6 separate regions of the Homo sapiens genome follow, and all the other regions are reported to be linked to region 1. Evidence: microRNA targets listed by miRTarBase, many of them from high-throughput screens and not tested one by one. Region 1 holds a microRNA gene; each other region holds the end of a gene's coding sequence.
Evidence for each region. Region 1 holds the annotated microRNA hsa-miR-8085 (UGGGAGAGAGGACUGUGAGGC, at 1,749-1,769, shown strand). A microRNA usually pairs through its seed, bases 2 to 8, with sites in the 3' UTR of a target mRNA and lowers its output. Matches are read on the target gene's strand: a 7mer-m8 pairs with bases 2 to 8, a 7mer-A1 pairs with bases 2 to 7 and ends in A, and an 8mer does both.

Region 2: the mRNA of FBXO40 is a reported target of hsa-miR-8085. Seed matches in the 3' UTR shown: 7mer-m8 at 640-646.
Region 3: miRTarBase lists CHST12 as a target of hsa-miR-8085. Seed matches in the 3' UTR shown: 7mer-m8 at 786-792.
Region 4: miRTarBase lists ZNF277 as a target of hsa-miR-8085. The part of its 3' UTR that is shown has no 7-base or 8-base seed match.
Region 5: miRTarBase lists LNX2 as a target of hsa-miR-8085. Seed matches in the 3' UTR shown: 7mer-A1 at 982-988.
Region 6: miRTarBase lists ARC as a target of hsa-miR-8085. Seed matches in the 3' UTR shown: 7mer-m8 at 715-721.

What each region holds. Positions count from the first base shown.
Region 1 is chr19:44,756,919-44,761,005 of GRCh38, forward strand. It overlaps MIR8085 (microRNA 8085), which reads left to right and starts at 1,739; the gene lies at 1,739-1,803. BCL3 (BCL3 transcription coactivator) reads left to right here. Exons shown (of 9, transcript NM_005178.5): 4 at 99-303; 5 at 409-497; 6 at 728-805; 7 at 1,328-1,495; 8 at 1,806-1,923; 9 at 2,510-3,126. The coding sequence ends at 2,697. RefSeq lists enhancers at 1-372, 1,676-2,325.
Region 2 is chr3:121,626,237-121,630,323 of GRCh38, reverse strand. FBXO40 (F-box protein 40) reads right to left here. Exons shown (of 4, transcript NM_016298.4): 4 at 29-3,629. The coding sequence ends at 3,414. Among named protein-coding and RNA genes, the nearest start is that of HCLS1, 33 kb to the left of the region's middle.
Region 3 is chr7:2,433,308-2,437,394 of GRCh38, forward strand. CHST12 (carbohydrate sulfotransferase 12) reads left to right here. Exons shown (of 2, transcript NM_018641.5): 2 at 1-4,087. The coding sequence ends at 577. Among named protein-coding and RNA genes, the nearest start is that of CHST12, 32 kb to the left of the region's middle. RefSeq lists an enhancer at 1-612.
Region 4 is chr7:112,341,939-112,346,025 of GRCh38, reverse strand. It overlaps ZNF277 (zinc finger protein 277), which reads right to left. Exons shown (of 12, transcript NM_021994.3): 12 at 2,092-3,465. The coding sequence ends at 3,297. The region is part of intron 1 of ZNF277-AS1 (ZNF277 antisense RNA 1); the gene reads left to right. Among named protein-coding and RNA genes, the nearest start is that of ZNF277-AS1, 6.6 kb to the left of the region's middle.
Region 5 is chr13:27,544,662-27,548,748 of GRCh38, reverse strand. It overlaps LNX2 (ligand of numb-protein X 2), which reads left to right. Exons shown (of 10, transcript NM_153371.4): 10 at 279-2,836. The coding sequence ends at 414. Among named protein-coding and RNA genes, the nearest start is that of LNX2, 74 kb to the left of the region's middle.
Region 6 is chr8:142,609,265-142,613,351 of GRCh38, reverse strand. It overlaps ARC (activity regulated cytoskeleton associated protein), which reads left to right. Exons shown (of 3, transcript NM_015193.5): 1 at 1-868; 2 at 1,100-1,244; 3 at 1,495-2,303. The coding sequence ends at 271. Among named protein-coding and RNA genes, the nearest start is that of ARC, 3.2 kb to the left of the region's middle.

The sequences.
Region 1 (4,087 bases):
AAGACTGCAGGATGAGGAATAAGGGTTCAGAAAACCTGGGGGAGGCAGGACTAGAGAGCAGGGCTGGACACAGGTCCCTCACAGTCACTGTTCCCCAGACACCGCTCCACCTGGCTGTGATCACCACATTACCGTCTGTGGTCCGGCTCCTGGTGACAGCTGGTGCCAGCCCCATGGCGCTGGACCGCCATGGCCAGACGGCCGCTCACCTGGCGTGCGAGCACCGCAGCCCGACCTGCCTGCGAGCCCTGCTGGACAGCGCAGCTCCGGGCACGTTGGACCTGGAGGCCCGCAATTATGACGGTAAGCATTTACCGCGGGGCACCGCTGGGCTGTCCAGCGGACCTGGAGTCCATCAGCGGCCGCAAAGCCCGGGCCTAGGTTTCACCGAGCCCTCCTCTCCCTCAGGGCTCACCGCCCTGCACGTGGCAGTGAACACCGAGTGCCAAGAAACCGTGCAGCTCTTGCTAGAGCGCGGTGCCGACATCGACGCAGTGGTGAGCGTGCACTAGGAGCTGGGAGGGAGCGGGGCCTTAGCAGGGGCGGGGTCTTGGCGGGGGCGGGGCCAGTGTGGGGCTGGCGTGGGAGAGCACCCGGGTGGGGTGGGGCTTGGAGTATCAGACCCAAGAGAGAGGCTGGACCCCGCGAATGGGATGTGGACGGGATGCGGGTCGCCGGCTGCTGGAGCAGAGCTTGGAGAAACTAAGACCTTCCCTCCCCGCCGCAGGACATTAAGAGCGGCCGCTCCCCGCTCATCCACGCCGTGGAAAACAACAGCCTTAGCATGGTGCAGCTGCTGCTGCAGGTGCGTACAGCCCCCCTGAGCCTCGCGCCCACCCTATCCTCTGACCCCAACCCGGCTCTGGCCTCAGCCCCTAGCTCTGACCCCGCCTTCCACTTCTGGCTCCGGCTCCTGCTCCGCGTCCAGCTCTGATCCTTTAAGGCCTAGTTTTCTCGACCCTCGGGCTCCACGCCCCTGGCTACGAACTTGTCCCATTCCTCCTCTGCCACCTCAACGGCCTAGGCCCCGCCCTGCGATGGCCTGGCTGACCCCGCCTTCCAGCTAGGCCCTGTCCACGCATTGTCCTTCCCCCCTCCAGCTCCCCCGACTCCTTGGGGCGCGGGCCTCGGTGTCCAGCTCCGGTTAATTCATCGCCGCCAACGCAGTCCCGCTTGGCCTGCCCTTGGCTCTCGCTCCTACCTTCCTGTGACCCCACCCCGATCCGGTGCCGCCCCACGTGCCGGCCACCCACCCGGGCCTCCAGCCTCTGTTCCCTTACCCCGGGTGGCCCGCGCGCCCTCCTGACCCGGCCCTCCCGTCCCGCAGCACGGCGCCAACGTGAACGCGCAAATGTACTCCGGCAGCTCCGCCCTGCACTCAGCGTCCGGCCGCGGGCTCCTCCCGCTGGTGCGCACGCTGGTCCGCAGCGGCGCTGACAGCAGCCTCAAGAACTGCCACAACGACACGCCGCTCATGGTGGCGCGCAGCCGCAGGGTGAGCCGGGGCAGCTGTGGACATGCCCCTTGCACACGTGTGTCCGCGGGCTGGTTGCAGGCGAGTGTGCCAGAGCGCAGAGGAGTGAGGGTGTCTGTGCCGTTGCGTGGAGGGGAGTGGGTGAGCCTCTGAAAGCGCGGGTGTGAGTTCCAGAAATGAGGAGAGACTGGCACCAAGAAAAAAAGTGCCTTGCCCATCTTTTCATACTGAGAAGTGGAGAGGCCACCACCTGGATCCAGTGAGCTAGGAGGGATGGGAGAGAGGACTGTGAGGCATGGGTGGCTCTATGGTCACGCCCATCTTCCTACAGGTCATCGACATCCTGAGGGGGAAGGCCACCCGGCCTGCTTCCACCTCCCAGCCAGACCCCTCCCCTGACCGGAGCGCCAACACCTCCCCCGAGAGCAGCAGCCGCCTCAGCTCCAATGGTGAGAAACCGTTCCCAACCTCCAGCCCTGGCGCCTCCTCCCTCAGACCCAGGAATCCCAACCCACAGCCCCTCCTCCCTCAGATCCAGGAGTCCAGGCCCCTAGCCTCCTCCCTCTGACCCAGGAATCCCAACCCATAGCCCCTCCTCCCTCAGACCCCTGGCCCCTCCTCCCTCAGACCCCAGCCCCTCCTCCTTCAGACCCCCCAGCCCCTCCTCCCTCAGACCTCAGCCCCTCCTCCCTCATACCCCCAGCCCCTCTTATCTCAAACCTCAGCCCCTCCTCCCTCAGACCCAGGAGTCCAGATTTCCAGACCCTCCTCCCTCAGACCTCAGCCCCTCCTCCCTCACACCCCCAGCCCCTCCTCCTTCTGACCCCCGGCCCCTCTTCCTTCAGACCCAGGAGTCTAGGTCCCCAGATGCCTCTTTCCTCAGACCCGGGAGTTTAAATCCCCAGCCCCTCCTCCCTCAGACCCGAGTCCAGACCCCCAGCCCCTCCTCCCTCAGACCCAGATCTCAGGCCCCAGCCCCTGCTCTCTGGGTCTAGCCTCTCACCACCCACCCCTCTGTCTCTCTTCCTTCCTCAGGTCTTCTCTCCGCATCACCATCCTCCTCACCCTCCCAGTCTCCCCCCAGGGACCCCCCTGGATTCCCCATGGCTCCTCCCAATTTCTTCCTTCCTTCCCCATCTCCACCCGCCTTCCTGCCCTTTGCTGGGGTCCTCCGAGGCCCTGGCCGGCCGGTGCCCCCCTCCCCAGCTCCAGGAGGCAGCTGAGGGGGATGGGGGGGCAGATCTTGGACTCATGAGGAGGGGCCCCCCTGCCCTGTGGGGTCAACCCTTCTGGAAACTGTGAAGATCTCACTCTGCCCCCCCCCCCCATCTTCGGGACCAGGATTTGCACAGAAGCACATGCACCTACCCATACACCCCCTCTTCTGAGCACAGATGTTCCCCCATCTCGCTCCCTCCCAGGACTCTGACCCCAGCATTCTCAGGCACCAGTCCCTGTCCGGAATGCCACCCACATCTTCCATTTCCATGTCCCCTCCCAGAGCTGGTGGACCCAGGGAACAGCCACTCCCCTCCACTCTCTACCAGATAACTGAGGAGGGGAGAGGTGGGCCGTAACGGGCACGGATCACGATGTAAATTATTAAGCATTTTGGTTGGATTTCTTTTGTAATAAACTATTTTTGTACCATATCCCTTGGGTGCATGGGCCTCTTTCATGAGATGGACCTGGCGGAAGTGCCTTCGTGTGTGTGCACACCCGTGCACTGAATCCAGTTGACTCCCAGAGTGATGTTGTGAGTCTCAGACAGACAATCTCCTGTGTGTCACTCTGGGACTTCTGGTGTGTTTGGTTGTGAATGTTGCCATCATTGTCACTGTACCATTGTTTCTAAGGAGGACGTGGTGTGTGATATCTTTTTTTTTTTTTTTTCAAGACAGAGTCTTGCTCTGTCGCCCAAGCTGGAGTGCAGTGGCACGATCTCGGCTCACTGCAACCTCCGCCTCCCCGGTTCAAGCGATTCTCCTGCCTCAGCCTCCCGAGTAGCTGGGATTACAGGTGTGCACCACCACACCTGGCTAATTTTTGTAATTTTAGTAGAGACGGGGTTTCACCATGTTGGTCAGGCTGGTCTTGAACTCCTGACCTCATGATCCTCCTGTGTCGGCCTCCCAAAGTGCTGGGATTACAGGCATGAGCCACTGCACCTGGCCGGTGTGTGATATCTTTCCAGGGCACCCTGTTGGATTCCGTAGTGACCCTGGGCATGTGTGTTTCTGTAGTGTGGGGGTCCTGGTGATAACCCACAGCTGACTTCAGCCCCAATCGTCTCTGGCTGTCCGAGTGCGTGGTGCTTGGGAGTGTTCCTAACATTGAGATCTGGGGTGATGCTGTGATTGTTGCCCTGTGACTGCCTCACATGGCGTGAGACAGTTTTACTTAGTGGTTCCATGGGGCCCCTCTAATGGACCACATCTGTGGTTTTGTTGTTGTTTTTTTGGGGGGGGATGGAGTCTCACTCTGTCACCCAGGCTGGAGTGCAATGGCGTGATCTCGGCTCACTGCAACCTCCGCCTCCTGGGTTCAAGAGATTCTCCTGCCCCAGCCTCCAGAGTAGCTGGGATTACAGGCACCCACCACCATGCCTGGCTA
Region 2 (4,087 bases), not on the chromosome of region 1:
CTAACTTATAAGATTCACCCAATTAGCCTTTCAGAGTGCAAAGCAGCTTTTATTTCCTCTTCTAGAGATGTTGAGGTTTCTAGTATACAGAGGTCAGTCACCACAGATATACTCAATCTCATTCTTCATTTCAGTTTGATTTGACATCACACATAAATCAGACTTTTATAGTGATTTTCGTGACGTATCTTCAAGTTCCACCTTGCTTTTCACTTTTTCCTTTGTTGTGAGATAGAAACTTCTTTTCCAGACCCTTATGCTACTAAGGCAGTAAGGTCCTCTCTGGCCCAGTTCTACAGACCTCAGCCTCCATATTCGGCTGATCTCTACTCTGGACTGCCTTTCTTGGTGATGATACTCACCAAGGGCTCTGCCCATAGACATCCTCCCTCCCTGTGTACACAGTCCGTCTTTGCTCCCCTCAGCTGTTTCTAAATCTGAAGCCACTTCTAGCTGTCTTGCCTCTGTCAGGTAACACTCGCTGTTCATGCTGTTCACTCCAGCTTCCTCTCACAAATCATTTCTGTCTAATCCATAGTCTCTCTGAAAGGCTTTGGTACCGCTGCCCTCTCACTATGAAGTGTGCTTGTCTTATTGAAGCTCGTGCTTCAGTACGGCTCTGAAGGCAGCAACTGGAGGGGGAGAGTGCGGCTGGAAGTGCACAACCCACAAAGCAGTTGTGGGCAGTGCCACTCTCCTGAACCAAGGCTTCCCCAGCTCACCCAGTTTGGGAAGGGAAAGCCTTCTGCCCTCTTCCTTTCTCTATGTAGCACCTTATTTCTCCTCCATCTGTCGATAGCCCCTGATTTTCATCTCCATTGGTCTATAGTTTCCCTTTCTATTTCTATTAAAATCACAAACCCAGAGTGGACTTTAGGAGCTTTTATCCTCCATGTAGGAAGGACTAGATTCAAAACACGTCGAACTACCACCTGGACAACTCTCTTCCTTCCTTCCCACTGCAGTGTTAGCTTCTTTCCAGTTACTCATCTTCACAGAATAAAACCTTAGGTCACACCCTAGTCATATTTTTAGAAAATGGTGCCTTATATACAAATATGAAATACAAACCAAAGGATGGGATTAGGAAAAATAGAGTGACATTACCAAATAGTACCGAGTGGCACATTACGATGAAAAGATGAGCATGTTTCTGGTCTGGGACTTGCTCTACTGCCTTCTAGACTCTTTTCAGAGGTTTCACCTACTTCATCTACACCAGCTCTGAGCCATGTTTAGAGAGAACCCAGGAAATAAAAGCACCCAGATTGACTAGATTGTTTCTTTTGTTGGCTAAATTCTTTATCCTCTGCTTCCCTACAATGCCTGTCCTTTTCTTTTCCGATTTCCCACTTGCTTGAGGACTGCTAGGACTGCTGGGAAAATGACACCAATTACAGTGAGAGGAATATAAACACAAGGCTAATAACTCAACGCTCCTGGCTTCAGGTATAACCAAAGAGAGCTGAAAGGATACATTCTTGGGGGTGGCTGAAGGACATGAAGCCATACCAAACGAATCATTTCCTTCTGGTTCCCAACTTAAAATCACCACATGTCTAAAACCTATTTCATAAATAAAGAGCTGCATTAAATCATAACTATTGTGGATAGCTATGTGCGATAAGATTTTGCTGTACTAAAAAATAAGCATATCCTAACTTATTGTCACTAGTATGACATCCTTTAGGGATTTTCAACGGGGAGCCATTTTGCTCCCCAATATTTAGCAATGTCTGGTGACATTTTTGATTGTTGCCACTGTGGGGGTGCTACTGACATTTAATGGATAGGCCAAGGATGCTGCCAAGTATCCTGTAGTACACAGAACAGTCCCTTGCAACAAAGAATTATCCAGTTCAGGCAGGGCGCAGTGGCTCACACCTGTAAACCCAGCACTTTGGAAGGCCAAGGCGGGCGAGTCACCTGAGGTCGGGAGTTTGAGACCAGCCTGAACAACATGGAGAAAGCCCGTCTCTACTAAAAATACAAAATTAGCCAGGCGAGTAATCCCAGCTACTCGGGAGGCTGAGGCAGGAGAATCGCTTGAACCCAGGAGGCGGAGGTTGCGGTGAGCCGAGATCATGTCATTGCGCTCCAGCCTGGGCAACAAGAGTGAACTCCATCCCCTCCCCACCTAGAAAAAAAAAAAAAGAATTATCCATTTAAAAATGTCAATAGTTCCAAGGCTAAGAAGCCCTGCTTTAGGGGATGCCAGTTTCTACTGTGTCTTTTTTTCTTTTACTTTTGTTCTTATGAATATTCACTGTTTGTTACCAAAAACAGCAGTATCATCCATTTTTGTCAGACTGAAAGCATGACCAGAAATATGGATGGGTAGGAGCAATTTCAGGGAGCCGTTATGTTCACATGTCTTCCTCTCCAAGACCCCAATGGGGTACCCAAGTGCTGTCTAGGAGCTGGTGACTGGCGCCATAGGAACTGCAGTGGGCCTTGTCTGGACTTTGCCAAAGGTGTGATCTCCCTGGGCTGCCCTGTGCATTCTGGCATGACGCTGAGGTTGGCATTAGTGTATTGAGGTCATTTCAGATAGCACAGGGTGGCCCAGGGCCATGGCTATGTTCTGCCTAACTCAGAACATAATTTTCAGAAGAAAAAAATCTTGACCCTTAAGTCATTATTAAAATGTTACAAAGTAAGTTGGTGACTTTTTGTCCTAATGTTCTCCATAAATATGGTGTCTCCTTTGGACTCCCGATTTATCAAGGCTTTCCTGCTGTATGTTGCCAAGATTCTAGCAACAGACTCTGTGATCCCATTTCTGCCCCTCATGTTTTGGCCTGTGGTGTCTTCAAGGCTGCCATGCTCAGCCAGGGGCTCTCCTATGTCAGGCTGTGTTAGGACTACCCTGGCCTAGAGGCAGTAGAATAACCAAAATGAGCCCTGGACTTGACCGTCAAAACAGACCCAGCTCCAGAGCCTCCAGCTTTGTTCCCTTCACCCTGCGTTCCCTGGGGAGTCCCATCCTGCATTTCCTGTCCCATAAATTTGAAAGTGCTTTGTGAACTAAAAAGCCCATGTAAAAGCACAGGCCTGTACTGGTTATGGAATTTCGTGCTCTCTCATCACTTAAGAAATTGGGCCCATCTTCCAAATGGCCTCAAATTACTTATTTTCTTCTCAGACCAATCTATTTTAGAAAGAAAGAAAAAAGAAAAGAAAAGAAAAGAAAAAAGGAAACAAGTCATCAATGTGGCACTATGGTACAAGACATGGCTTAGGAAATTCTTAGGCCTCGTGTTGAGGTTTCGAAGGACATTGCGTGTTCCAATACACCCCGATAAGCAAATAGGCAGTTTACAGAAGGGAGTCCTCAAAACCACACACTCTGTCCTACTTCAGGAACTCCGAGAAGAAATCCAAGAAGGGTGCATCGAGTGGCATCTGAATTTTTAGGAGACGTATCTTCCTCGTGGTCTGATTCTAAAGGTGGAGACTAAGCTCTCTCGGGCCTGCTCACGGGGCTGACACATGCTAGTCAAAAGAATCGGGTCAGTTTTGTGCTCTACAATGTTGAAAGGACAGGACTTCAGGTGCTCAGACATGGAGGTGACTTCATTAAACTCCCAGCTCTTGATTTTGGAGAAGAGGCTGCTGAACTGCCAGATCTGTTGAGAAAGATAGAAGTTCAAAGGTGAATATAGGGGTGTTACCCTCTGGCTGGCTTTATTTGGGCACTATAAGGAAATATCCTCCTGTTCTTCATATTCTTAGACTCCAGAGTGTTTAGTGGCTCCTGCAGACATTTGGTAGCCCCTCCTCCAGCATCCAATTCCTAGTTCCCCCTGCCAACCAATAATCTTCCCAACCAGCCCTGTAGTTGTGAGAATCACTAACACCAATCAGCATATTGACACACACTCTCCCTTGCTCCTCCACCAGCAAGTGATTAATTTTAAAGTAGATGCACAGTTCAAATCAGAACAATTAGTACCAGTGCAACTCTTATTCCAGAACTTTTGTTGGAGATACCAAAAAGCAGATTCTCTTTTTCTTTCTCTACTTGAACTGCAAAGCTGAAGTCCTAGGAGGTGCCAGCAATCACCAGAGACCACCGAGTGAGCAC
Region 3 (4,087 bases), not on the chromosome of region 1:
CGGGAAGCTCTCCCGCCACCTCATGAAGGTCAAGCTCAAGAAGTACACCAAGTTCCTCTTCGTGCGCGACCCCTTCGTGCGCCTGATCTCCGCCTTCCGCAGCAAGTTCGAGCTGGAGAACGAGGAGTTCTACCGCAAGTTCGCCGTGCCCATGCTGCGGCTGTACGCCAACCACACCAGCCTGCCCGCCTCGGCGCGCGAGGCCTTCCGCGCTGGCCTCAAGGTGTCCTTCGCCAACTTCATCCAGTACCTGCTGGACCCGCACACGGAGAAGCTGGCGCCCTTCAACGAGCACTGGCGGCAGGTGTACCGCCTCTGCCACCCGTGCCAGATCGACTACGACTTCGTGGGGAAGCTGGAGACTCTGGACGAGGACGCCGCGCAGCTGCTGCAGCTACTCCAGGTGGACCGGCAGCTCCGCTTCCCCCCGAGCTACCGGAACAGGACCGCCAGCAGCTGGGAGGAGGACTGGTTCGCCAAGATCCCCCTGGCCTGGAGGCAGCAGCTGTATAAACTCTACGAGGCCGACTTTGTTCTCTTCGGCTACCCCAAGCCCGAAAACCTCCTCCGAGACTGAAAGCTTTCGCGTTGCTTTTTCTCGCGTGCCTGGAACCTGACGCACGCGCACTCCAGTTTTTTTATGACCTACGATTTTGCAATCTGGGCTTCTTGTTCACTCCACTGCCTCTATCCATTGAGTACTGTATCGATATTGTTTTTTAAGATTAATATATTTCAGGTATTTAATACGAAATGTGGAAGGGAATGCTGGAGTAAAATATCCCCTCTCCCCTCCGCCCGCCCACCCGCCCGCCCGCTCGCCCGCTCGCCCGCTCCTGTGGTTTTTCTGAGCGTGCGGGCGCCGGGAGGGGATGCTGAGGCTGATGGAGCTGCCTCCAGGGCTAGGGCCACTCACCGGAGGAGGGCGGGGCCTGCACTTGAAGTCAGGCCGCACCTGTCTGTTTTTGGAAGGGTAGCCGACAAATCCTTCCAGAGGGAAAGTTCTTTGTTTAAGTGTTGTACTTGAAAAGGTCAATCTTCAGGGCTTCCTGTTTGAAGTCAAGTCAGAGGTAAACCGGTCAGTTACAGAAGCAGGATTTCTAGGATTTCTAACTCCAGCTGTTCCCATACTGTCTAGTTTAAATTATGGCTGTTAAGGCCGGGCGGGTGACTCAGGCAGGTAATCCCAGAACTTTGGGAGGCCCAGACAGAAGGATCGCTTGAGGTCAGGAATTTGAGACCTGGCCAACATGGTGAAACCCTGTCTCTACTAAAAAAAAAAAAAAAAAAAAAAAAAAAAAAAAAAAAATGAGTCGGGTGTGGTGGTGTGCACCTGTAGTCCCAGCTACTCAGGAGTTCTGAGATGGAAAGATTGCTTGAACCCAGGAGGCAGAGGCTGCAGTGAGCTGAGATCGCGACATTGCACTCTAGCCTGGGTGACAGAGTGAGATTCCATCTCAAAATAAATAAATAAATATTAATACATTATGGCTATTAAGGCTGGGCACGGTGGCTCATGCCTGCAATCCTGGCACTTTGGGAGGCTGAGGGGGGAAGATCACTTGAGCCCAGGAGTTCAAGACCAGCTTGGGCAACATAGCAAGGACCTCATCTCTACAAAAAATAAAAAGGACGTGGTGGTGCACATCTGTAAACCCAGCTACTCAGGAGGCTGAGGAGGGAGGATCACTTGAGCCCAGGAGTTCAAGATCAGTTTGGACCACATAGCGAGACCCTGTGTCTACAAAAAATAAGAAAATCAGCCGGACATGATGGTGCACACCTGTAATCCCAGCTACTCGGGAGGCTGAGGCAGGAGGATCGCTGGAGCCCAGGAGTTCAAGGCTGCAGTGACCTATGATCGTGCCACTGCACTCCAGCCTGGGCAGCAAAGTGAGACTCTGTTTCTAAATAGACAGATAGAAGATAGGTAGATAGATAGATTAAATAGAAAGTAAACTATGGCTGTTGAGGTTTACAGTTGGCAGGAGTGGAGTGGTTTGGCGTTTATCTCTAGACCGTGCTGGATGACAGTACCCAGTGTCACCAAGAAGAGGCTCCGTGTGACTGTCTCTGTGGCTTTCTGGTTGGTTTAGCTCCAGTGCCTTCACCCTCAAGGACACGACTGACCTTGAACCCTCAGGTTTGATGGGCCCTGTCTTGATAAAAGTGTCAGAGGAGGCTCTGGAAACATCTGGCTGAAACTCCTTTGCTATTTCTGCTTCTAAGCTGTAGTTGGAGAGATGGTTGCAATCATTTCGTGGTGTCGGGCACCCTGCTTGACCTGTCTTCCTCGTGTGTGGTATTTGTCACCACTGCCCAGTCCCTGGTTGCTGGCCACGCTCAGTTGGGACATACCCTGGTGTCCTCTGTGTGTGGTGTCCCTGTGTTTCCCAGGCTCAGGTGGGCTTGTGTGGGTCTTGGCCCCCAGTGCCTGCTAGCCTCAGGTGTCCCCTGTGTTAGACACCTCCTGCCTTCCTTTCTGAAGCTTCGCTTTCTTTTATTTTTGTTTTGTTTTGTTTTTGGAGACAGGGTCTCGCTCTGTCATCCGGGCTGGAATACACTGGTGCAATCACAGCTCACTGCAGCTTCAACCTCCTGGGCTCAAGTGATCTTCCCATCTCAGACTCCCAAGTAGCTGGGGTTACAGGTGAGCGCCAGCCTGCCCAGCTAGTTTTTTATTTTCAGCAGAGATGAGGTCTCACTGTGTTGCCCAGGCTGCTCTCAAACTCCTGGGCTCAAGTGACCCTCCTGCATCACCCTCCCAAAGTGCTGGGATTACAGGCATGAGCCATCACACCTGGCCCCTCCAAGTTTTTTATTATGATAAAAATGTTTAATTTTAAACGTACCATCTTAACCATTGTTAAGTGCACTGTTGTGTGGCATTAAGCACATTCGTATTGTCGTGCCACCACCACCATCATCTCCAGAGCTTTCTCATCTTCCCAAACTGAAACTCTGTCCCCATTCAGCACTCGCTCCCCATTGGTAGAAGGCAGCAGCTTCCACTCTCTGATTTCTACTACCCGAGCTCCCTCAGAAATGGAGTCACACAGTATTGGTCCTTTTGGGACTGAAGTACTTCACCTCATGCAATGTCCTCTAGGTTCATCGGTGTCGTGGCAGGTGTCAGAACTAACTTCCTTTCTGAGGCGGAATAATGTCCCATTGTGTGGAAGAGGCATGGTTTGTTTATCTGTTCATCAGTTGGTGGACACTGAGTTGCTTCTGCCTTCCTGCGAATGTGAATTGAATGCTGCTGTGAACAGGGTGTCAGTGAATCTGCTGAGGGCTTGTTTTCCGTATTCTGGGCATGGCCCTTTGTGTCTGCCTTTGCTGGAGCACCTCCCCGGGATGCGTTTGTTTATAGGATGTTCAGACGAATGTCAGAACCCACTGGGCGGTTCACTCACTGAGGGGGGCCCGCGTCCCCTCCATTTCTGCATTCCCAGTTCTTGGTATGGTTCCTCTGAGGTTCGGTTTTCCTGAGCACCTGGGGTGTTTGCAGGGATGTGGAGGGGTTCCTGCAGAAGACACCACCCACATCCACGCACCTGCTCAGATTCCCGGGCCATGGTCGGGGCCACCGCCCGTGGGGATGACTCCGGATGGGAGTGGCAGAAAAGGGCCTGCTGGGCCGAGGGGAGGCGTCTCCGGGAAGAGAGGGAGGTGTGAGCGGGGAGAACCCACTTTGATTCTTCGCTGTTTGCCTGATGCGCAGCACCACACTGCGTAGAGACCTTTGGCTCTGGTTTTTTCTTTTTCCACTGAAACACAGCAAATTATACATTTTATGAAAATTGGCATCGTACAACTGGAAAATTTAACCATAAACTTAAAACTCTTTTACCCTGTTGGCCCCCATCCTCCAGCTGTGTCCACACTTTGAGCACAGTCATGAGAATGACTTGGTTGGGTGCGGGGTGGTGTCACAAAGCCCTGTCTCTTGTGTGATGGCTGCGCCTCGAATCAGTGGGAGGGCACCTCGCCCGTTTACAGTTGGGCAATGCTTGGGCTGGGCGGCCTGGCTGCTCCTGGACTCGCCTCCCAGCGTCTGATGCTGTGTATTTTCCATCTGCCCCAG
Region 4 (4,087 bases), not on the chromosome of region 1:
TTTGCTTAGTTTTCAATAAAAGCCTTTCATGGTGTCTGCAGAGTGGGAGGGTTAGAAATCTAGAGCTGTGGCCAGAGCCTATGTAATTAACAAATACAGTTGAGTTAGGACCGCATGGTGGGAGGAGGTTGACTCTTGAGTCTCTGGACAGGCAATACGACTCCAAGATGAGTTTTGGGGCATTACCTACACAGACTAGCATTAATAATTGAAAACCAGAGCCTCAGACTCCAGCATTCTGTAGCACATATGCTGCATAAAGAACACACTGTAGGGCTGGGCATAGTGGCTCACTTGAGGTCAGGAGTTTGAGACCAGCCTGGCCAACATGGTGAAACCCCATCTCTACTAAAAATATGAAAATTAGTCAGGCGTGGTGGTGGGTGCCTGCAGTCTCAGCTACTCAGGAGGCTGAGGTGGAAGAATCGCTTGAGTCCGGGAGGGGGAGGTTGCAGTGAGCCAAGATTGCACCATTGCACTCCAGCCTGGGAGACAGTGAGACTCCAACTCAAAAATAGAAAAGTAAAAAATAAAAATAAAAACCCACTGTAAAGAAAGGTCAGAAAGGCCTTTAGAAGGGTGATTAGGCCAGGAGGACAGCCCTCATGGATGGGATTAATGACCTTATAAAAGGGTTTGCTATAATTTCAATGTTTTGATGTTCCCTCCAAAATTCCTGTTGAAACTTAATTCTTGCTGCAACAGTGTTAAGAAGTGGGGCCTTCAGAAGGGTGATCAGGCCATGAGGGCAGAGGCCTCATCACTGGGATTAATGACCTTACAAAAGGGCTGGAGGGAACTAGCTAGGCCCTTTTGTCCTTCCATCCTTTTGTCCTGTGAGGACACAGCCTTTGTCCCCTCTGGAGGATGCAGTATTCAAGGTGCCATCTTGGAAATAGAGACTGGGCTCTCGAACTGGACACTAAACTAAGATCATGGACCTCCCAGCCTCCAGAACTGTGAGAAAAAAATCTAATTGTTTATAAATTACCCAGTCTCAGGTACTCTGTTATAGTAGCAGAAATGGATGGAGACAATGAATGATAATGGAACATGTTAAATAATATAAAGAAGATACAATCATCCAAATCCAGAAAGCAAGACAACTAATCCAATTGCTTTAACAAATAAGTGGCATTAAAAAAAAACTGTGAATTGTTATAGATTAAAAGACCCTTAAGAACCACACCAACCAAATATAGTGCATGGATCTCACTTGGAACCTGATTAAACAAAACAACTGAAAAAAGACTTTTTTTTTTTTTTTTTTTTTTGAGATGGAGTCTTGCTCTGTCACCCAGGCTGGAGTGCAGTGGCGCGATCTCAACTCACTGCAAAACTCCACCTCCCAGGTTCAAGCAATTCTCCTGCCTCAGCCTCCTGAGTAGCTGGGATTACAGGTGCCCACCACCACACCTGGCTAATTTTTGTATTTTTAGTAGACACGGGGTTTCAGCATGTTGGCCACGCTGGTCTCAAACTCCTGACCTCGTGATCTGCCCACCTTGGCCTCCCAAAGTGCTGGGATTACAGGCGTGAGCCACCGTGCCTGGCTGAAAAAAGACATTTTAAAAAACTTTTAATTTTGAAATAATTTCAGACTTTCAGAAAAGTTGCCATAGTACAGAGAATCTCCACATACTTTTACCTAGATTCCCTAAATGTTAACATCTTGCCATGTTTACTTCATTATTCTATATATACCCTTGTTAGTTTTTTGGGAGTAAGTTGCAAACAAAATGCTCCTTTACCCCTAAATACTTCAGTGTGTATGAATATTTCCTGAAAACAAAGACATTCTCATCCCACAGTACAGTTATCAAAATCTGGAAATTAACAACAATACCATAACACTTACTATAAATCTTACTCAAATTTTGCCAGTTGTCCTGCTAATGTCTTTTGTAGCAAAAGAAAAACTTTTTTTCTTGGTCTAGCATCCAATCCAGGATCATGCTACGCTATCTTTAGCCACCTTTAATCTGAAATAGTTTTTCAGTCTTTGTTTTTTATGATGTTAAAATTTTTGAATAGTAAAGGCCAATTATTTTGTAGAATGTCCTTTAAATTTGGATTTTTTTTTTTTTTTTTCCTTTTTTTGAGACAGAGTCTTGGTCTGTTGCCCAGGCTGAACTGCAGTGGTGTGATCTCGGCTCACTGCAACTTTTGCCTCCTGGATTCAAGCGATTCTTGTGCTTCAGCCTCCCAAGTAGCTGGGACTATAGGTGCATTCCACCATGCCTGGCTAATCTGTGTATTTTTCGTAGAGATGGGGTTTTGCCACGTTGGCCAGGCTGATCTTGAACTCCTGACCTCATGTGATCCTCTGCCTTGGCCTCCCAAAGTGCTGGGATTACAGATATGAGCTACTGTGCCCAGCCTCAAACTTGGATTTGACTGTTTCTTCATTATATCCAAATTATGCATTTTTGGTATAAATCTACAAAAGTGATATTCTGTCCTCCTCAGTACATCTTATCAGGAGGCATATAATATTCATCAGTAATGAAACTGATAATATTGTAAACATACATTTTGAGACAAGTGGGAAAAACTGAAAACAGATGATATTAAGTTAATGTTAATGTTTTTTAGGTGTCATAATGGTATTGTGGTTATGTTTTTAAAAAATGGCATTTAAATGTTAGTGACATACAAATTGCAGGGAAAAGTGAAGTTAACTGGCTTGATGTCTATTTCTAGGGAATTTGGCCACCCTAGGCAGAAAGTGGTAATAACACAGTCAGCTCTTGATTGTTCTAATATAATGGCCAATTTGCATATTATCCACGTCTTTGACCATTTCTTCTTTCTTCTGTGGCTTTTCTTTTAGTCATTACATTTACAGCTCACCCAATATAGTACAGAAGGGATATTCAAATTTTGCAACTTGTTGGATGAAGAAGGTCCTTGGGGAGGAGACTGAAACTACTGATTGAAAAATCAGGTTTATAAATAATTTGAACATTTCATTTCTTTGTAATTGACATATACTTCTATATATAATTATGAGTTTAATGAAGTGAGATAATTTAAGATGATCACACAATAAAACTTTACAGCCAAAATACAAAGTCTTCATCTTATTTTCCTACTTCATTTTTTTTCATGTTCTTAGTAAGTGCATTTTTCTACTTTATTTTTTGAAAAGAACATTCATTTTTGAAAAGTTTATTTCACCAAGGACCAATCTTTTGTTGATGTTCAAATTTAAATTGTTCTTTCATATCTGTCTCATAGGAGAAAAACATGAAAAATTGCTTCTGTGGTAGTTTCTTCTAGGTTTTCAAGTACTCTTATAGTAGCAACTGGTTCAAAATACTGCTTTGTTTCAAAGCATACAGTTTAGATGTATCTTCACTGATGATGGGAACATTTTCATTTTGTTCCTGAGCTGTCAGGTCACTTTCACTGTCAGATAGTGTACACAGGAGAGTGTCATTTTCATAGGTTGGAAAATAATACCTGAAAACAACCACAGATACATAGTATTAAATTACCAAGCTAATACAGTGTCCAGGTAGCTGAATGTACACATTTACTATAATTTTGTCAGGTATCCTTGCCAACAATTTCATAGCATTTTGCAAAGGCTATACTGGAGACAACTTCTGATTGCTTTCACTTTGACTTTTACTGGCTGACATCAACCTTACCAAATCTACTATCCAGATTTGGTAAACCAAGATCGTGGACCTCCCACCCTCCAGAGTTGCCTCTGGAGTTGTCCGCTGGCCACTTAGCCTCTGCTTGATCATCTATCATGATAACAAAACACACTATCTTCGAAGGTAGCTGACCCCAGTAGTGGGTAGATCTAGTTGTTTGATACACCTCCTGTGAAGCTAAAAATGACATCTTTCTCATTTCTACTCAAAGGTCCTAGTTCTTCCTTATAAGTTAACAAACTTCAAATATAGTTAATTTTTCAAACACAAATTATTCAAATAATTGAGAATAATAAGCTCTTCCTTGTGTTTTGTTTTCCAGCCTAATAGTTCCTTCTTTCTAGGTAATCACAAAAGGAAACACTTACGGAATATAAAGTTTGTTATTCTGGTTCCTTCTCTGAATACATTTTGAAGTT
Region 5 (4,087 bases), not on the chromosome of region 1:
TTACTCTATATTTTGCTTAAATTAGTGTGAAAATTACTCTGCTTGTCCTTGACATTCACCTACTGGTTATGGAGTCATCGGCACAGGGGTTTCCTTGATTGGCAAGGGAAAGCCAGCATAGGCTTAAGGGCTGTCCCAGACAAAGTAGATTATACACCCTAACCATTGACAGTTCAGTGGTAAGTGAAACCGCATTTTTCATGCTACATAAATCTCAATTGGGATATTTTTAATACCATGAAAATAGTAACATTCTGTATCTGTCTCTCTTTGTCCAGGTGTGGTGACATGATTGTGGCCGTAAATGGGCTGTCAACCGTGGGCATGAGCCACTCTGCACTAGTTCCCATGTTGAAGGAGCAGAGGAACAAAGTCACTCTGACCGTTATTTGTTGGCCTGGCAGCCTTGTATAGATTTTGGAAATTGGTTTCAAATCTTGCATCTTCCTTTTTTAGATTTTTGAAAGAAAACCCTTTGGTTTCATTGTGTTTGTGGTTTAGGAGCTGCTGACACTGCTGGTATACACAGGGCCAAAACCCACTAAGATTGTCCGTTTATGTTTATTTAAATGGTTTCCTAAGTTAGTTACATTTCTTTTAGCTTGGAAACAGTCTTCCACTAACCTTTGTGAGTTTATATTTTCAGAATTCAGACTTAGTTGTTAAAATGTTACCTATGGTAATGAGCAAAGCTCACCCAAACTGTGCCCCAGATGGAGTAAAGACCTTCTGGTGGGTCTTTGTTTTCAGTAACTGAATCATAGAACGAGTTCTGTATCCCTCAGGCCTGATGTCAGCAAAGCCAGTAACAACAGCGTGTACTGCCACTGTCATAACCAATACCATGAATGAATATACTTTAAATTTTGGTGATAACTGTTCCCCATTTTTTTTTGAACCACAGTCTCACTCTCACCCAGGCTGGAGTGCAGTGGCACAATCTCAGCTCACTGCAAGCTCCGCCTCCTGGGTTCACGCCATTCTCCCACCTCAGCCTCCCGAGTAGCTGGGACTACAGGCGTGTGCCACCATGCCCAGCTAATTTTTTGTACTTTTAGTAGAGACGGGGTTTCACCGTGTTAGCCAGGATGGTCTCGATCTCCTGACCTTGTGATCTGCCCGCCTCAGCCTCCCAAAGTGCTGGGATTACAGGTGTGAGCTGCCGCACCCGGCCGTTCCCATTTTTTATTGGTGCCAACATTTCAAAACTTCATACTGTTTATAAACTGATTTTCTGGTTTATTTCTACTGTAATCTCTCAATATTCATAGAAGATGAAGAAATAAGTCTGACAACACTAAAGAAATTTCTTAATATACTATTATTAGAATAGTAGAGGATAAAAGATAATGTTATCCAGTTACAAAGGAATTTGGATGATAATTATAACTTAATGTTAGAGATGGTAAAGCTGCACTTACTTGAACAGCCCAAAAGCATTAAAAATCTATTTCCAGAGGAATGTTTTGCTATGTAGGGAAATTTTGAAGTAGTTTTTGCTAAAAAATTATTTCTAGAGTTGTGTTATTCTTAGCAGTAATCTTGGCTAGAAATGTTTTTGTGATTTATGCGATTAAACGAAATGATAAAGATAAAACCATATTATTAAATACCTATATATCACAGCTAAGTAGGAGAAAGGGAGACCTTTTTATTTTGTTCAGGTAGGAGTATTTCTTGTGTATTTTAGAAACAATTATTTTTCCCATTATTTCTTATGAGATTAGTTGTTTCAAGTAGGAGACAGAAAAGTTCTGTTTTGTTGGAAATGTAGGTTTTAGATGTATCTTTCAGTCAGCTCTCAGTCACTAGACTATTTCATATTTTTTGAAATGTTTTTGAAAATTATGACTAGCCCATTTTTTGTCCTTTATTCAACATACTTATCCTCTGAACACATAAATAAGTGAATAAGATAAAAATATCTTTACCTTATTAATATTATACATACTTGAAAAAAATTTCATTTAGAAACCTAGTTCAGAATCTGAGCAAATTTACAAGTGACCTCTGTAATAAATGGTATTGATAATCAGAGAATGTATTTCAGAATACTACAGTACAATATATTATGAAGCATGACCACTTTATTTTGAAACTTAGCAATTGTATTGCTGGGGTTTATTGTATCTGTAGCATGTCACTGATTATTTCAGTTAGTTTTATAATGATTTTTAAAAAACATATCTATTTGGAATAAGATACAGCAACAATCATTGCTACTGACTTGTTCAACCCCTTAGTTACACTGTATGATCAACATATAACAAGATACAGTGGAATGGCCCATACAGTATATTACTGTTGTGTGATGATTGGCTTTGGAAGCAGTTTGATTTTGAAATGCTTTGATATTCTAATTGACATGGAACAAGTTTTTTCCCTGCTCCCCAAATAGAATTTTGTAACCAACTTTGCTATTTTTTTAAAGTTTGTAAGAATGTGTCATTTCTTGGGGAGTAGCCATCCATCAACAAATATCCTGACTGCTACTTTGTTATATACAAAATACTTACATTGAACCTGGTGGCATAATGAGTATTTTGAAAGAAGAAATTTCTTCACTCTCATTTTTATAGAAATCTTGGAATCAGCTTAAGCTGTAGCTTTTATGACAAAAGACAGTCATTTTTGGTCAGAGTGATATTTGGTGACGGAAACTTGTTCATAATTTATTGTTACTATAGAACTATTTGGATTTTCTCATTTTTAGTTCTGATAGTTAAATATTTTGGTTTGTTCTGTGCCTTCAGTTTAAATTATTTCAGGATTTTTCAGATGTTTAAATAATGGTGTGAATCATTCAGGATGGAAATAAAAGTCATCCTTTCTGTAATAGTGACGTTGTCTCTTTTCTTGAACAGCAGCTGTTGACTTAGTCTGTGATCTGTATTTTTGTTGCTGGCTCCACTGTCCTTATAATATACCGAGCACCGAGCATGAAACCTCAGGATCACAAACCCACCTTATTCTCACCCCACAGTTTCTTTTTCTTTTTCCTTTTTTTTTTTGAGATGGAGTCTCGGTCTGTCACCCAGGCTGGAGTGCAGTGGCACGATCTTGGCTCACTGCAACCTCTGCCTCCGTGGTTTGAGAAATTCTCCTACCTCAGCCTTCTGAGTAGCTGGAACTACAGGTGCCCACCACCAGGCCTGGCTAATTTTTATATTTTCAGTAGAGACAGTTTTGCCATGTGGGCCAGGCTGGTCTCGAACTGCTGGCCTCAGGTGATCCACCTGCCTCAGCCTCCCAAGGCACTGGGATTACAGAGGTGAGCTACCAGGCCTGGCCTCTTTTTCTTTTCTAATATGGTTACTAGGAAAAAAAAAATTTGTAACTGAAAGAAAGAAAGTTGTCTCCTAGTTTTCTGGTAAGTTAAGTTCAAACCAAGGCCTCTGTGGTCAGACTCCTAATTGGATTGTCCAGATGGCTCCATGGTGCCATTTACCCTCCCTTGCTCCAGCAGCCTCCTCAGAGCACACACTTACAGTATTTCCTCCAACTGTAAAGCTTTTTCTTCTCTGCTGGTTCACGTTGTTCCCATATCTGGAGTGAGGGCTTAAGTGACGCTCCATGTGTCTCACTCTCAACTCCACTCCCCACTTTCCTTCCTAATGGTGAATCTCCGTAGGCCTTTGTGTATGCATTTCTTCTGGCCTCGATCTCTTGCTACCTAGTTAGAGTTTTAAGTACCATCTTTAACCTTGCAACTTTGAGCACCACTGACACCTAAGTCTACAGCTCCCACAGTCCACAGCCTGAGACAGACACCCAGATCTCAGCACCTCCAAAACTGAAATCTGTGCTTTCCCAAGCATTTGCCTACTTCCTATCTCTTCATCTTTCAATCCAAACTCTTAAGCCTTGAGAGTAACTTCTGAACCCCAACTCTAATCATATCCTTGCCCTGTTTAAAAATCTTCATTTGGCTGGGCGCAGTGGCTAACGCCTGTAATCCCAGCACTTTGGGAGGCCGAGGCAGGCAGATCACGAGGTCAGGAGATCAAGACCATCCTGGCTAACACACTACTAAAAATACAAAAAAATTAGCCGGGTGTGGTGGCGGGCGCCTGTAGTCCCAGCTAAC
Region 6 (4,087 bases), not on the chromosome of region 1:
CCTGTACCAGACGCTCTACGTGGACGCGGACGAGGAGGAGATCATCCAGTACGTGGTGGGCACCCTGCAGCCCAAGCTCAAGCGTTTCCTGCGCCACCCCCTGCCCAAGACCCTGGAGCAGCTCATCCAGAGGGGCATGGAGGTGCAGGATGACCTGGAGCAGGCGGCCGAGCCGGCCGGCCCCCACCTCCCGGTGGAGGATGAGGCGGAGACCCTCACGCCCGCCCCCAACAGCGAGTCCGTGGCCAGTGACCGGACCCAGCCCGAGTAGAGGGCATCCCGGAGCCCCCAGCCTGCCCACTACATCCAGCCTGTGGCTTTGCCCACCAGGACTTTTGAGCTGGGGCTGACTCCTGCAGGGGAAGCCCTGGTCCAGCTGGGTGCCCCCTCGAGCTCCGGGCGGACTCGCACACACTCGTGTCATCCAGATGTGAGCACCGCACCCAGCGGCAAAGAGCCCTCCCCCCTGCAGGGCTCCACCCATCACCCTCCCTCCGTCTGTCTTTCCGGCCTGGACCCCACCCTCCACACTCTCAGGCCATCACAGAACACCCCAGCTTCCTCATTCTGCTACAACACCCAGGCCCTCTGGACATCCAGAAAACCAAGTGTCCGGATGGCAGGGGCCAGCGGCCACCAAGCTCATGGGACACCCAGAGCAGAAGCTAGGGCAGAGCCAATGCTGAGGGAGCCTCGACTTCCGGCGCCGCCGCCCTCTCCCGGCATCCGCAGAGCCAGCTGACGCCCTCCCTGCCTCCCAGGGCAGCTGGCCAGCCTCGGGCAGCGCGGCCCCCTCCTCCCAGGGGAGAGTAGAAGTCGCACACGCAGCAGAGCAGACCTGATGTCCCGGTGCTTCCTGGCCCCTCAGGTGAGCCCCTGCCCCAAGGCAGTACCGGCTGTGGGGCATCTGAGAGCTGGCGGGATCCGGAGGCTGTTTTCTAGGAGAGCCCACTGAGGCTTGGGCCCCCAGCAAGTTAGCCAAAGGGATGGGGTGGGGCTGGCATCATGGAAGGGGGCATTGGGGAGAGTGGGCCGGGTGGGAGGCAGGGGCAGTTTGCTGAGCCAGCTCTCACATGGACCCGCGCTTTCTCTCCCCCAGCTCCAGTGATTCACGCCCGCCTGGAGAAGAATCAGAGCTCAGCTCATGACTCACCCATGGCAGGCGGAGGGTCCCAGAGGGGCTGAGTCCTCAAATCCGGCTGAGGCAGCAGCTGGCACCATCAGAGCCAGGAGAGTGACAACAGGTAACGGAGCACCACCCTTCCACCCAGACCCCACCATCAGCTGTCCCGGCCAAATGAGCTCCTCCCCAGACCCCAGACACCCTGCGGCCCAGGCCACTCCCCAGTGTTCGGGCTCGCTGGGAGGCTCTGACGGGGTCGGGGGGCCTCTGCCTTGGAAGACCAGCGCCATCCACCGGCCCCAGCCCCTCCCCATGGAGCCCTGGCTACTGTCCTGCGTGGTCCTTCACTGCCCACTCTCCTGTTCTTTCAGGTCTCAAGGTTCCCACAAAGTCTTTGCTGCTGTGCTGGGCACCACCCACCCCTCACCTTGCAGGCTGCCTGCGTGGGAGGCGAAGTCCCAGGACAGCCCAGAGGGGGGCTACAGAGAGGAGTCGGCTGCAGCAGAGGGCAGGAGCCCCAGCTTAGCCCTGAGCGCCAGCGCGAGGACCAGGGCCTGCCACTAAGCCCGCCCCGCTGGCCGCCAGCTGCCCGTCCCCAGAGCCACTGCAGCAGGAGTCGGGCCCTGCCTCCCTCCCAGCAGGGAAACCCCGCCCGCTGCCAGGCCATCCTCTCTGCCAGAGGCTTTCATGAGCCCCAAGGCTGGGGCCACAGCTCCTACCCCTGCCCAGCAGCCCTGAGCTCAGCTGCAGGAAGGACATCCCAGAAGCCATGGCTCCTGGGGCGCTTCCAGGCATTCTGCCCTGCCCCGACACCAGAACCCTGGTGCTGGTGGGCCACTAGCGTCTGCAGCCTAAGCAGGTGCTGGCTCAGGGTTCATCGTTCTGCCTTGTCCACTGGGGGACCAGCCCTGCAGACCACTCTGACAAGTCTTCAGCCCACACCCTGCCAGCCCCACAGATTTTATTTTTGCACATAAGCCATAACCAATCCTCAAGGCTGGCACAGGCTTTGGGGAAGCCCTGGAGCCTGTGAAGACCCTGGAAACCTCATGAGGCTGTGGCCAACCCCTGCCCCTTGCCCCACACAGACCAGGCCTTAAATGTCGGTCCAGGCCCTGTGCACCTTACCCCAGAGACAGACTCTTTTTGTAAGATTTTGTTAATAAAACACTGAAACTTCCTGGAGTGTTCATGTTGTTTCTTCTGTGTGCTTGGGCTGGGCAGGGGTGGAGCTGCAGACACAGGTCCCCCGGCCCAGAGGGTCACCCTGGAGACCCCATGGGTGTAGTGAGAGGTCTCCGGGGGCTCGGGGGAGCACCAACAGGGCAGCCTCCATCAGGGTCCTGGATCCTCAGGGGGAAGCACCCTCAGGGATCCACACTGCAGCCCCACTACAGCCCCACTGCAGCCCACTAGGCCTAGCTCAGCCCTGCCTCCAGGCCCGAGGTGGCCATCAGTGAGGGTGACTGCTGACTGGGGCAGCCCTGTTCATGCTGAGCTCATGCCTGCCCCTCTGTAAGTCCTACTGGCACGTGGGGTGTACAGCTGGGTGCATGGGGGGATTACAACTAGGGCTTGGCCCACACAGCCATCTCAGGCTCCGGAGCCCTGTGGACCTAGTCAGTGCAGACCCCAGCTGGGAGGGGACCCTGGCCATTCCTGGTTGCCAGATCATGAACTTGGTCTCTCTGAGCCTCAGTTTCCTCATCTGCAAAGCAGGGCATCTATCCTCAGAGCATCTGTGCTGAAGAACTTGGAAACAAGGGTAACTTGATGCCCTGCGGGACATCAGCCTCCCCCGCCTTTGTGGGGACACTGGATTCCGAGGGGCTGCGGGAGGTCAGCCTCCACTGCCTTTTTGGGGACACTGGATTCCAAGAGGCTGTGGGAGGTCAGCCTCCCCTGCCTTTATGGGGGCACTGGATTCCGAGGGGCTGTGGGAGGTCAGGCTCCCCTGCCTTTGTGGAGACACGATTCCTAGGGGTTGTGGGACATCAGCCTCCCCCACCTTTGTGAGGACACTGGATTCCGAGGGGCTGCGGGAGGTCAGCCTCCCCTGCCTTTGTGGGGACACTGGATTCCGAGGGGCTGCGGGACGTCAGCCTCCCCTGCCTTTGTGGGGACACTGGATTCCGAGGGGCTGCGGGACGTCAGCCTCCCCTGCCTTTGTGGGGACACTGGATTCCGAGGGGCTGCGGGACGTCAGCCTCCCCTGACTTTGTGGGGACACTGGATTCCGAGGGGCTGCGGGAGGTCAGCCTCCCCTGACTTTGGGGGGACTCTGGATTTCGAGGGGCTGTGAGAGGTCAGCCTCCCCTGCCTTTGTGGGGACACTGGATTCTGAGGGGCTGCGGGACGTCAGCCTCCTCTGCCTTTGGGGGGGCACTGGATTCTGAGGGGAAAAAAGAGATGGCCTGGGTTAGGGATCAGCCCCTACCCATCAGTGTTCAATGAGAAACAGGACTGACAGGAGACAGGAAATTCATTGCAAGGAATTGTTTTACTCAACGTACGGGCTGCTGAGCCAGTCCAAAATCTACAGGGCAGGCCAGAACCTTGGGGAAGGGGCTGAAACAGGCACGTGAGGGTGTTATTTCGTCTGCATCTGGGAAGCCTTAGCTCTGCTTTTATGGCCTTTCAAGGGACTCAACCAGGCCACCCAGGTTCCCAAGGATGCTCTTCCTGAAAGCACCTACGACAGACCTTCGGCACAACACCTCTGTTAAGATTTGATTGAGTGACTGAGAGCAGTACCCCGGCAAGGTTGACCCTCACAACCATCATGGTCATTTGCTGCCGGAAGTTTCCCACCCCTCTGGTGGGGTTGCCCTGCTCCTGGGGATCCCGGGCCAAGCTGCGGGGTCAGCTGGTGGGTGGTGTCAGCTGAGCCCTGCTGGGAGGCCGGGTGCATTGCACCTGCAGGGTTCTGGCACTGAGCTCACTGCTCCTGCAGCAGCGAGGGGC